2 separate regions of the Homo sapiens genome follow, and region 1 is linked to region 2. The links come from fine-mapping of genetic effects on gene expression. A gene starts in region 2. The other region holds a variant in brackets. All regions are shown on one strand. Distances are between the middles of the regions.

Region 1 (5,388 bases), 130 kb after region 2:
TAACACCAGTCACTTGCCTCTTGTCTGACATGTTTTTGTCTTCTGATAGTTTTGTGCCTCCTTATGTCCCTCAAATTCATCATCATCATCATTACTATTAGCAGTAGGAGTGGTGTTTTCTACAGTCAGTGGTTGCTCTGGTTTACCCACATTTGCTATTTCTTTGGAGATCATTAGTTCTTGCTTTCTGCATCTTTCTTCTGGTTTTGATTTGCTCCTTCTGGAAGTAAAATGTTCCCATAGTAACATTTTCTGGAAGGGCCTATGAATGGTAAACTCAGTCTTTGCCTAAAAATGTCTTTTTTCTGCCTGACTTTTGAATTATAGTTTAGCTAGTTATAAAATTCTAGCTTATCAGTTATTTTCCCTCTATATTTTGAAGATATTTTTTCTGTTGTCTCTTGGCCTCTGACTATTGAGTACTGTGCTGTCAACTTATTTTTTGCTTCTTTATAGGTAGTCTGTCCTTTTTACCTCTGGTGGCATTTAGGATCTTCACTTTGTTTTGTGGTCTGCAGTTTCCCTATTATGTGTAGTGTAGATTTATTTTCATTTCTTATCTTTGGTCTCAGTGCATGCTTTTATTCTGCAGATTCTTTCCTTACAATTCTAGTAGAGTCTATGTTATTATCTCTTTGAATACTACCACCTCACTATTCTCCCTATTACTGTTTCTGGAATTTCTATTAAATACATATTGGACTATCTCATTCCTTAGGCCTCATAACCTCCTTTTAACATTTTCCATCACTTCATCATATTGCTGCACTTAGCACAATTTCCTCAGATGGGACTTCTAATTTACTAATTCTCCCTTCAACTTCTTTTCAGCTTACAAACTTTTAGTAGCTAGTTCTCATTTCTACACATTCTAATTTGTTTCTGTTCAAAATATTACTTTTTTTTTTTTTTTTTGAGACAGAGTCTCACCAATGCCCAGGCTGGAATGCAGGGGCACAATCTCAGCTCACTGCAACCTCTGCCTCCCAGGTTCAAGTGATTATCCTGCCTCACCCTCCCCAGTAGCTGAGATTACAGGTGCACACCACCATGACTGGCTAATTTTTGTATTTTTAATAGAGACAGGGTTTTGCCATGTTGGCCAGGCTGGTCTTGAACTCCTGACCTCATGTTATCTGCCCACCTCAGTCCCCCAAAGTGCTGGGATTACAGGAGTGAGACACACCTGCCCTACTTTTCTTTTTTTTGTTACAATAGTAGCTAAAACTTACTCTGTGCCAAGCATATGTGTACTCTTCTAATCACTTTACATATATTAACACACTTAATCCTTACAATAACCCATTGATATAGATACCATTAGTATACCTACTTTACAGATGAGGGACTTGAGGCACAGAAATATTAAGTGACACACCCAAGGTCACCCAGGTGGTGGTAGGTGATAGTGACGAGATTTGAACCCAGCACTTTAGCTTCAGTTTCTGCGCTCTTAGCTACCGTGCAACAGTGCCTCTCATGAGGTTTGTTCCGTTCTTGGTGTTTTAATTACATCTTTTAGGGCTTTAATAATTTTAAGCATGTTTATTTTACATTCCCTTTCCAATTGTCATTCTATTATATGAAGTTTTAGGGTATCTTTTAGTGCTATTTATTGTGTCTGCTGACTTTTAAGTCAGCAGGATTTTGTCCTCCTGCATTTCATTATTTGTGTTTGTGAGCTTATCTTTAAAGAAGGCTGTTTTTCTGTGAGAATCCCCGTGGCCTGGGTTGTAAATGTGTCCCTCAAGAGCAGTTTTGCATTTGCCACAGAAAGATCACCAGATGTGGAACTCTTTTTTGGCTGTTTATCATTTTGGGAGTCATTTATCATCATGGTTCCTGGACCATCTGCAAATTTGAACCTCCAAATTTGAGGTAGAAAAAGACCCTGAGAATTCATTTCTCAGAGGACATTTTTCCCCATCCAGACAGAGGCATATAAATTCTTTTTTGTCTCTCCGTGCCAGTGCATCGATGGTTCTCCTAATCTACTCTTTTCAGTGTGGGTGTAGCCTTTTAAAAACTGCTGCAGTTTTTTAACTAAGCCCAGCTGTGGCAGCATCCCACATCCTTACCACTCACTTCTCTCTTTGTTACTGACACACCTGGAGACTTCCTTTCTCTGTTGCCAGTTCATTCATGCATTTAAAATAATTTTTGCTGTATTTTGTCAAGCATTTTAAGGCAGTATGGCAGGAGAGTTTTCAGACTGTTTCCCCACATCTTCTTTTAAGAAAGTTAGGAGTCTCATTCCACCCTTTAAAAAAAGTATGATGTTAATTATTTTCTCTTGGTAAGCCTGATTTAAAAATTGGGGACATCCATAGAAGTGTTAGGAGGAAAATGCAAACTACTCATTGTACCACTACCTAAAAATGGCCATGTTTTAAATGTTTTCTCCTTTTTGTATTATATGTGTTTAGATATACATATATACATGTATATATGTATGCATATGTATACACACATGTATACGTGTATGTAGACATATGTATACATATGTACACATACACGTATACATGTAGACATATGTACACATGCACGTATACATGTAGACATATGTATACATGCACGTATACATGTAGACATGTATACATACATTTATACATGCACACATACATGTACACATACATGCACACATGTACACATACATGTATACGTGTATACATACGCACATACATGCATACACGTATACATGTATACATACGCGCATGCATGCATACACGTATACATGTATACATACGTGCACATACATG[T/C]ATACACGTATGCATGCATACATACGTGCACATACATGTATACACGCATGCATGTATACATGCGTGCACATACATGTATACACGTATGCATACATACGTGCACATACATGTAGGCACGCATACATGCGTATACATGCATGTATACATGCATGCGTGCGTGTACATACATGTATACATGCACACATACGCATACATGCATGCATACATGTGCATGCATGCATGTATGCATACGCATACATACGCATACATACGCATACATACGTATACATACATGTGCGCATACGCATACATACGTATGCATACGTATACATGTATACATACGCATACATACGTATACATACGCATACATACACGTATACATGTGTATACATATGTATACATACGCATACATACACGTATACATGTGTATACATATGTATACATACGCATACATACACGTATACATGTATACATATGTATATACGTATACATGTATGCGTATACATGTACACGTATACATGCATACATGTATGTATGTATACATGTATGTATTCATACATGTATACATATATACATACACATATGTGTGTATGTATATATGTACTATATAACTTGATTCATGTGTGAATATCTGTTTACATGTGCGATTTTTCACCTAATAGTGTATTGTATTTTTCTTACATCATTAAAATTCATTAAAGAACAAACAACTGAAGAAAAACTTCTGCCTTAGAAGCTTAAGGATAAATGAGGGGCATCTTCTTGCATATATTTGATTAGCTGTTCTGCAAATCTACTCTTCTGCACCTAGCAACCTAGAAATAAAAAAGGGAATAGCTGCACTAAGAGCCCTAGAATCCTAATTAACATTGTGCCGCTGATAGATGCCTTACATTTAAAGCAAGATCATGTTGTTTCTCTCCCATATAAATGATTTTCATTGACTGTTCTGAATAACTTTATATTTCCGGTCTCCAATTTGCTGCAACTAAATCTTAGCTACTCCCCCATTCTGGCTTTCTTGTTGAAAATTGCTCTCTGAGCAAAACCTGGAATGTCTGAAGTCGTTCCCCAACACAGTTGCTAGAGATGGGCTGTGAAATAACAGAATTTAGCAGCAAGTCTCTCCACAGGCCAGTGTATAAAAAGGATCTGAAACCTAGGCTGGGAATGACAAGTATGCTAGAGGGAATGGCACTCCCCTGCCCGCCTTCCAAAAGCAGTTTGGCTTCAGGAGAGTGGGTGTGTGTTTCACTTGGTCTTGCAAATGTAGGTCTAACTTTGTCACCGCCTTTCCGTCTGCCTTCCAGCATCTGTGCCCAGTTGACGTAATGACTGTGGAAGGCAGATTGAACGTTATTAAGGAGACAGCCTGGAAATTGTGAGAGGCAGGCAGGGTCAAGGATAGAAAGCATTTTTGGGAGACTGGGGTTCTCAGCTCACAGTAATTGAGAAATCGATTCAAACTCATGCCATACAATGAAATTATATGTGTGTGTGCATTTCCTAGAAGTTACCCCATGGCCCTTCCCACTTAAGTTAGCACTATACAATGTCTTGGCCAAATGAATTTGAGTTCCAAGTTAGGTTCTTGAGACTTAAATTAGTTCCAAGTTAGTTTCTTAAAATTTGTAGTAGAAATAATAGCCTTAAAATGTAATTTATTAAAAATTAAATTTAGGGCCAGGCACGATGGTTCCTGCCTGTAAGCCTAGCACTTGGGGAGGCTGAGGTGGGAGGATTGCTTTAGCTCAGGAATTTGAGACCAGCCTGGGCAACATAGTGAGACCTTATCTCCACTAAAATAAAAAAATTAGCCAGGCATGTTGGCACACACCTGTAGTCCCAGATACTCAGGAGGCTGAGGCGAGAGGGTCACTTGAGCCCAGGAGTTCAAGGCTGCAGTGAGCCATGATCATGCCACTGTACTCCATCCAGCCTGTGTGACAGAGCAAGACCCCCCTCCAGAAAAAAATTAAAATCTTTAAAAAACAACAGTTTTGATTTACAACTGCCAGAATTTATGAGAAAAATAATTTTAAGTTTCAAAAGTTTAGTGTGCACACTAAAAAAATGAAGGCACAAAGCTTATGTTGCCAACAAGATATTAGAAACAGAAGTATAACTACACAACTCTACTTCCTGTAGATTAAAGATTGCCAAGACTTTATTCATATTTTTATTTTTTAAAAAATTTAAAAACTGAGACGTGGATTCATTTCTAACAGGGACACACAAATGTCTGATGGTGGCCCAGGAGGGCTGTCACTCAGAATCAGGCGGGTGCAGAGTGGCCTGCAGGACATGATGACCCAGCATGAGACAGGATGCATCACATCTGGGTGACGCCTCTCTCCAGGGGATCAGCCTGGACTAAATGCCTCTCCTGGGCCAGGATGCCCAGCAAGCCCCGAGATGCCTCCTGGAGAGAAGGAAGTATGTGAGAGTATCCTGAGTTAAGTGAGATCTAAAATGCCTGAGAAAACCCTGAAATGACTGAGTCTATCTGGAACTTATTTGATTGTTTTTCTGCCATCAGATAGAATGAGGTCTCAAAAGAGAAATTAAATTATATTACAAGAAAATAAAGCTCAATTGCTTGCCTATTTGAGTTTGTGGCCTGTGAAAATCTTGCCCACCAAACTACGAG
Region 2 (5,375 bases):
ATACTCAGCAGTCCCAGCCCACCACATACTCCTTCTCTCCCTTTACAGTTTCCCTGGTCACTCACTTCTTGTAGTCCCTTTTCCGTCCATCCTGTCCCCTTTTCAGTTTCTGTTTTAACTTCTCCTTACATACCCAGTTCTACAAACAGCATTATGAGCTCAGCCACCCTCCAGTTCCTGTTAAAAACCACTAGAAATATAATCCAAGGGCTGGGCGAGGTGGCTCATGCCTGTAATCCCAGCACTTTGGGAGGCCGAGGCGGGCAGATCACCTGAGGTCAGGAGTTCGAGACCAGCCCGACCAATATGGTGAAACCCTGTCTCTACTAAAAATACAAAAGTTAGCCGGGCTGTGGTGGCGCACGCCTGTAATCCCAGCTACTCAGGAGGTTGAGGCAGGAGAATCGCTTGAACCCTGGAGGCAGAGGTTGCAGTGAGCCGAGATCGTGCCACTGCACTCTAGCCTGGGTGACGGAGGGAGGCCCTGTCTCGAGAGAGAGCAAGACAGATGCGAACCATATTTGCAATTTTATATTTTCTAGTAGCCACATTTTTAAAAGTAAAGAGAAACTCATGGAATTATTTTTAGTAATATATTTTACCCAATATATCCAACATGTTACTTCAATATAAAATCAATATAAAATTATTAATGATATTTTAAATTCTTTCTTCATATTAAATTTTTGAAATTGTGTGTATATTTTACACTCAGCATATCTCAATACAAACTAGCTGCATTTCAAGTGCTCAATAGCCACATGAGGCTGGTGGCTACCAGATGAAACAGCACAGATCTAGACTCTAATGAAAACGGATTTAAAAAAAAATAACTTTTGTTTATCTGTATTCTTATTCTTCAACAGACACAAATTGCATGCATTTCTGTATTTTTACAACTTGCTATTTTAAATATCTTTGGCATATCTTCACATTCATCCTCTAATGCAAGTTAGTTTTCTAATTTTTTTAATTTTTTTTTTTTTTTTTTTTTTTTTGAGACGGAGTCTCGCTCTGTCGCCCAGGCTGGAGTGCAGTGGCACCATCTCGCCTCACTGCAACCTCCGCCTCCCGGGTTCAAGCGATTCTCCTGCCTCAGCCTCCCAAGTAGCTGGGACTACAGGCGCGTGCCACCATGCCCGGCTAATTTTTTGTATTTTTAGTAGAGACGGGGTTTCACCGTGTTAGCCAGGATGGTCTCGATCTCCTGACCTCGTGATCCGCCCGCCTCGGCCTCCCAAAGTGCTGGGATTACAGGCGTGAGCCACCGCGCCCGGCTGCAAGTTAGTTTTCTAAATGGCACATGTCACATCAGCATCTGTCTTCACTTCGATATATATATTCATATTTAGCTCCTATCTGTTCCACTGCCTCAAGACATTCTCCCTGTTCCCTGCCTCCTGCCACCTTCTCCCTCTGCACATCACTGGCTGTGAAGGTTCAGATGCCCAGAAGAAACGTTTTCCACATCTTCACCACCTCTTCACACTAACCCATGCACAATTTCTAGCTCTGCTTTAGTAGATCTAAGGTCACTGACTCATGACTCAGAAAAGTCAAATGCAAATCATAGGAAAAGCCTGTCTTCACTGCTTCAAAGTTATGTTTACAATAGGCTTGTTATTTACTTTTACTTAAAATTAGAAACAGTCGAAAAAAATGAAATGCATGGCCTACTTTGGTTCCTTTTCAAAATAAACTGGCCTAATGGTTCTCCACAAACACAAGCAACTCAATTTTTAATCAAAAAATGTACTTCTTGCCTCAAAGACTTTACTAAAATAATGTTTTTGGTTCTTAACTATAGAAACAGTTTCACCACTGGAAAATGTGAACATGAGGTAGATACAGCTTAAGAAGTTAAAAGTCTTGAATTAGGAAATTAAGGTGTTGTCATTGACTTTAAACACCTATAGACTTTGTAATTCATATTACAGTTTGGCTTCCCATTGCTCGAAGTGTTTGCCTTCCTAATAATGACAGACTTGCTGTTCTCCCCCAGGCTCTAAAAGGTAGCATGTGGAACCCGGGGGAGTTATGAGACCTGGATTTGGGTTCTCACTGCCAGTTGACAGCCAGATATATGATCTTGGCGTCCATTCGCCCCGCTGGCCTCAGCCTTCCTGCTGTAAAAAGGGGGTTGACAGCAGGCTCCTTAAGACTGCCTCCACCTCTGCCCCCCGACCTTAGCTCATCCTCCTCTATTCCATTATCCCTGAAGCATTTGCCTCCTCATGTATCTCCTTCCCAAAAGACAAGATGGCTGGCAGCACGGAAGTGAAAAGGGAAAGAAAGGCTGTTTAAAAAAAAAAAATTCTAAAATGAGTCACCTTTCAAGAATTTCCCATTTCCTCATGCCTGGGTGCTTCCTCGTGTCGCTAAATCAGTTCTTCCAATGAAACTTGATCTAAGAACCTGGTATTTGTTATGTGCACTGCTCTTGGATGATGTTTACAATGTGCACACATCTCTTTTAAGAGCTTGTAGGTATCAAACGACCTCCAGGTTGTGCATCAAAAAGACATCAGCAGCCACAGAGTCAACTTTAGTTGAGCCTGGAGAAAATCATACAAAACCGTAGAGTTTTAACTAGGTTTTGTATCATCTTTTGATAAGTTAGGAAAAATAATTACAGCTCTCCAAACTTCCCACTTAACAACTCCCAGGACCCTGCAGCACCCTAAAATCTAGCCAGCTCCAAGAATCACTCTCTACTCCATACCCGGATGAGCCTTGACTCACACTAATTCCCTCCCTGAGGCTTAAGTCAGGGGGCAGCTGATGGTTGTGGTCTGTGCTGCTTCCGCCTGGCCTATTTTTCATGCTGCCATTTTGAATTAGCATAGGTTTCCTCCGCAACTGATGCATCTTCTAACCAGGCTGGGAACACAACACGCGCACACGCGCACACACACACGCACGCACCCACCCCACCCGGCTGCCGGACGCAAGCGTAAGTCAAGGACTTGCATGCTAGAATCAGACAGAAAATCCAGAAAAGCCACGTTATTTAACAGAACCCTACAAGGTCAGCTTTGAGTCAAAGCAGGTAACAGTTTCCTTCGATGTTTTCATGGACATTTTTATTCCCAAATCCGAGTTCTCGCCAATTCTCTAAAGTTCAAGCGCCCCTCCTGCTTTGCAGACCACATTTCTCTCGGCCCTCGCGAGTGAGGTCGCCAAATACTCGACGCCTCAAGAGCGAGCCGAGGAGGCAGAGGCCGACCAAGCCGGCCTCTCGGCAGCCCCGCCCGGCGCCCCGCGGAGAACGCCCGGGTGCGGCTCGAGGGAAGTTGTGTCAAGTCCCACGCGCGGCCCGCGGAGAACCCAGGGGCGGCCCGCGCGCGTCGGCCTAGCGGGGAGGGCTGCTCCGGGACACGGTGCGGCGGCCGCGGGCGAGTTGGACGCGCTGGCAGAGCCGGGCCGAAGGCGGCGGGCGTCTCCGGGCAGCCATGTTCGCGGCGCCCGCCCGCGCAGCAGGTACGGCACCTCGGGGAAGGTGCCCGGCTCGCCCCAGACCCCAGGGTGGCGAGGCCAGGGGCCCACAGGCACATCCCAGTGGGCAGCAGGTTGGCTGCCAGGAAAAGGAAACCCAGGAAGAGCAGCGCGGGGAACCCGGCTGCGGTGCGGGAGCCCGGGGCCGGCATCCCTCCACTGCACCCCCGCAGTCCCCGAGCCGAGTCACCCCGGCTTCAGGCCGAGGCCACCTCTCCTCTGACCGCCCCCAGGCTCCCAGCCCGCCCGGGCCAGCACCGGGAATCGGCCTGGGGTAACGCTACCCGCGGGTTCGGAGGGACAGCGGGAGGAGATGAAACGCAGGAGGTGGCGATGGCGGGTGGGGTGAAACCGCCGGGAAAGCAGCGCTGCAAACGCCCTGCGCTCCCAGACGCGGCTCACCTGGGGCGGCGGGCTCCGGGCTCCGCTCTCCGCTCTGCGGTGCTGAGGCTGCGGCCGCCGAGGGTGCGGGTGCTGCCGGGTCCGGATTACTGCGGCGACCTCGGGGGCTGCAGCTGCAGTGGCGGAGGCGGCCGCCGGGCGCTTCCCCCTACCCAGACTCCCGGCGCTGGGGCCCGCCGCCCCCCGCAGCAGCTGGCCCGACTCACGTGACCGCGGGCCCACCCTCCGCCTCCCCCACCCCGGCCCCCGGGGCCCCGCCGCACCCCGCGCGTCTGGCTGCACGGGCCGCGGCGCTGCTCACCGTCGAGTAGGGAGGGGGCCTGGGAGCTGGAGGAGCGGCCGAGAGGGCGTATCTCGCCGCAGAAAGTGGCCCCCTCTTTGCTAGATTTTTATTTCTTGGTTGTGGCTCTCAAAAGGGAAAACCCGGGCTTCAAGGAGCCAGGCCCAGCATCCTTTTGGCGCCTCTTCCCGACGTTTGGTTGCTACGTCCGGGCCTCGGCGCCCACACAAGATTTCCCCGGAGAGAAATGTGTCCTGTACCTTGTTGACTCGCACGTCCAAGTCGAGTCCCTGGTTTTAAAAGTGCCGTCCTGTACCATGTTGGTAAGCCAGACCCTGTCCCAGGTACTTGGACATTGTGGCCTAGAGAGGTTAAGTAACTTGCCCAAGGTCACACAGCACGTAACTAAGCCAAGATTCCATATCTGGGTTAATAAAGTTATGTACAGGGACTTGTGTGTTGTGTGTCTGTGTGTGTGTGTGTGTGTGTGTGTTGATGCCAGCGTCAACTCCATCTTTTATAAGTAAATAAGAAAAGACTATCTCAAAAGATATGAAGACGTAATTCAGAGGAAAATAAATGCAATTCTATCCTGGCACACGAAAAGATATTCAGGCTCACTTAACTGCAAATCAAATATGTGGGGTAGCATCTTCCACCAGCCAGATTAACAAAAATCAAAACATTTTGAGTCTTGCTTTGTCGCCCAGTCTGGAATGCAGTGGCAGGATCTCGGCTCACTGCAAACTCCGCCTCCTGCCTCCCGCCTCCCGCCTCCCGCCTCCCGGGTTCAAGCGATTCTCGTGCCTCAGCCTCCCAAGTGGCTGAGACTACAGACCCACGCCACCAGCCTCGCTAATTTTTTTTGATTTTTAGTAGAGATGGGGTTTCACCATGTTGCCCAGGCCGGTCTCAAACTCCTGAGCTTAGGCAATCCGCCTGCCTCTACTATCCAGCTTCCTTTAAAAAGGAGAATGATCTTTATTTGCTAATACAAAACTATTTCCAACCTATACTAACTAAAGAAAAATAAAAAGCTAGGTGCAGAACGTTGTGTGTGTTATTTGTGGGAAGAAAATATATATGTATGTCTGTACTTATTTTTGTAAATGCACAGAGTATCTTTGGAAGAGTACGTAAGAACCTGTAATAGATGCCACCAGGGAGCAGAACTGGGAGACTGGGTGCTGGGGAGAGA

Alleles and levels. Positions count from the first base shown, and alleles are read on the strand shown. Sizes are in standard deviations (SD) of each study's normalised expression.
As copies of C replace T in region 1, the expression in prefrontal cortex of the gene that starts at base 2,912 in region 2 goes up (small effect, 0.40 SD a copy in BrainSeq).

What was found. PIP is the estimated chance that this variant, and not a neighbour inherited with it, causes the effect.
Region 1: its variant is the best candidate, but not a certain one, in a credible set for the expression of FKBP14-AS1 in prefrontal cortex (BrainSeq, PIP 0.68).

Annotation. Positions count from the first base shown.
Region 1 is chr7:30,113,004-30,118,391 of GRCh38, forward strand. It overlaps a transcript of PLEKHA8 not described here. Among named protein-coding and RNA genes, the nearest start is that of MTURN, 19 kb to the right of the region's middle. The variant T/C (reference allele first, on the strand shown) is at 2,760.
Region 2 is chr7:29,985,745-29,991,119 of GRCh38, forward strand. It overlaps FKBP14-AS1 (FKBP14 antisense RNA 1), which reads left to right and starts at 2,912. Exons shown (of 3, transcript NR_187577.1): 1 at 2,912-3,049. SCRN1 (secernin 1) reads right to left here and starts at 4,057. Exons shown (of 8, transcript NM_014766.5): 1 at 3,898-4,057. RefSeq lists silencers at 3,284-3,403, 3,494-3,763, 3,774-3,823, 3,844-4,183.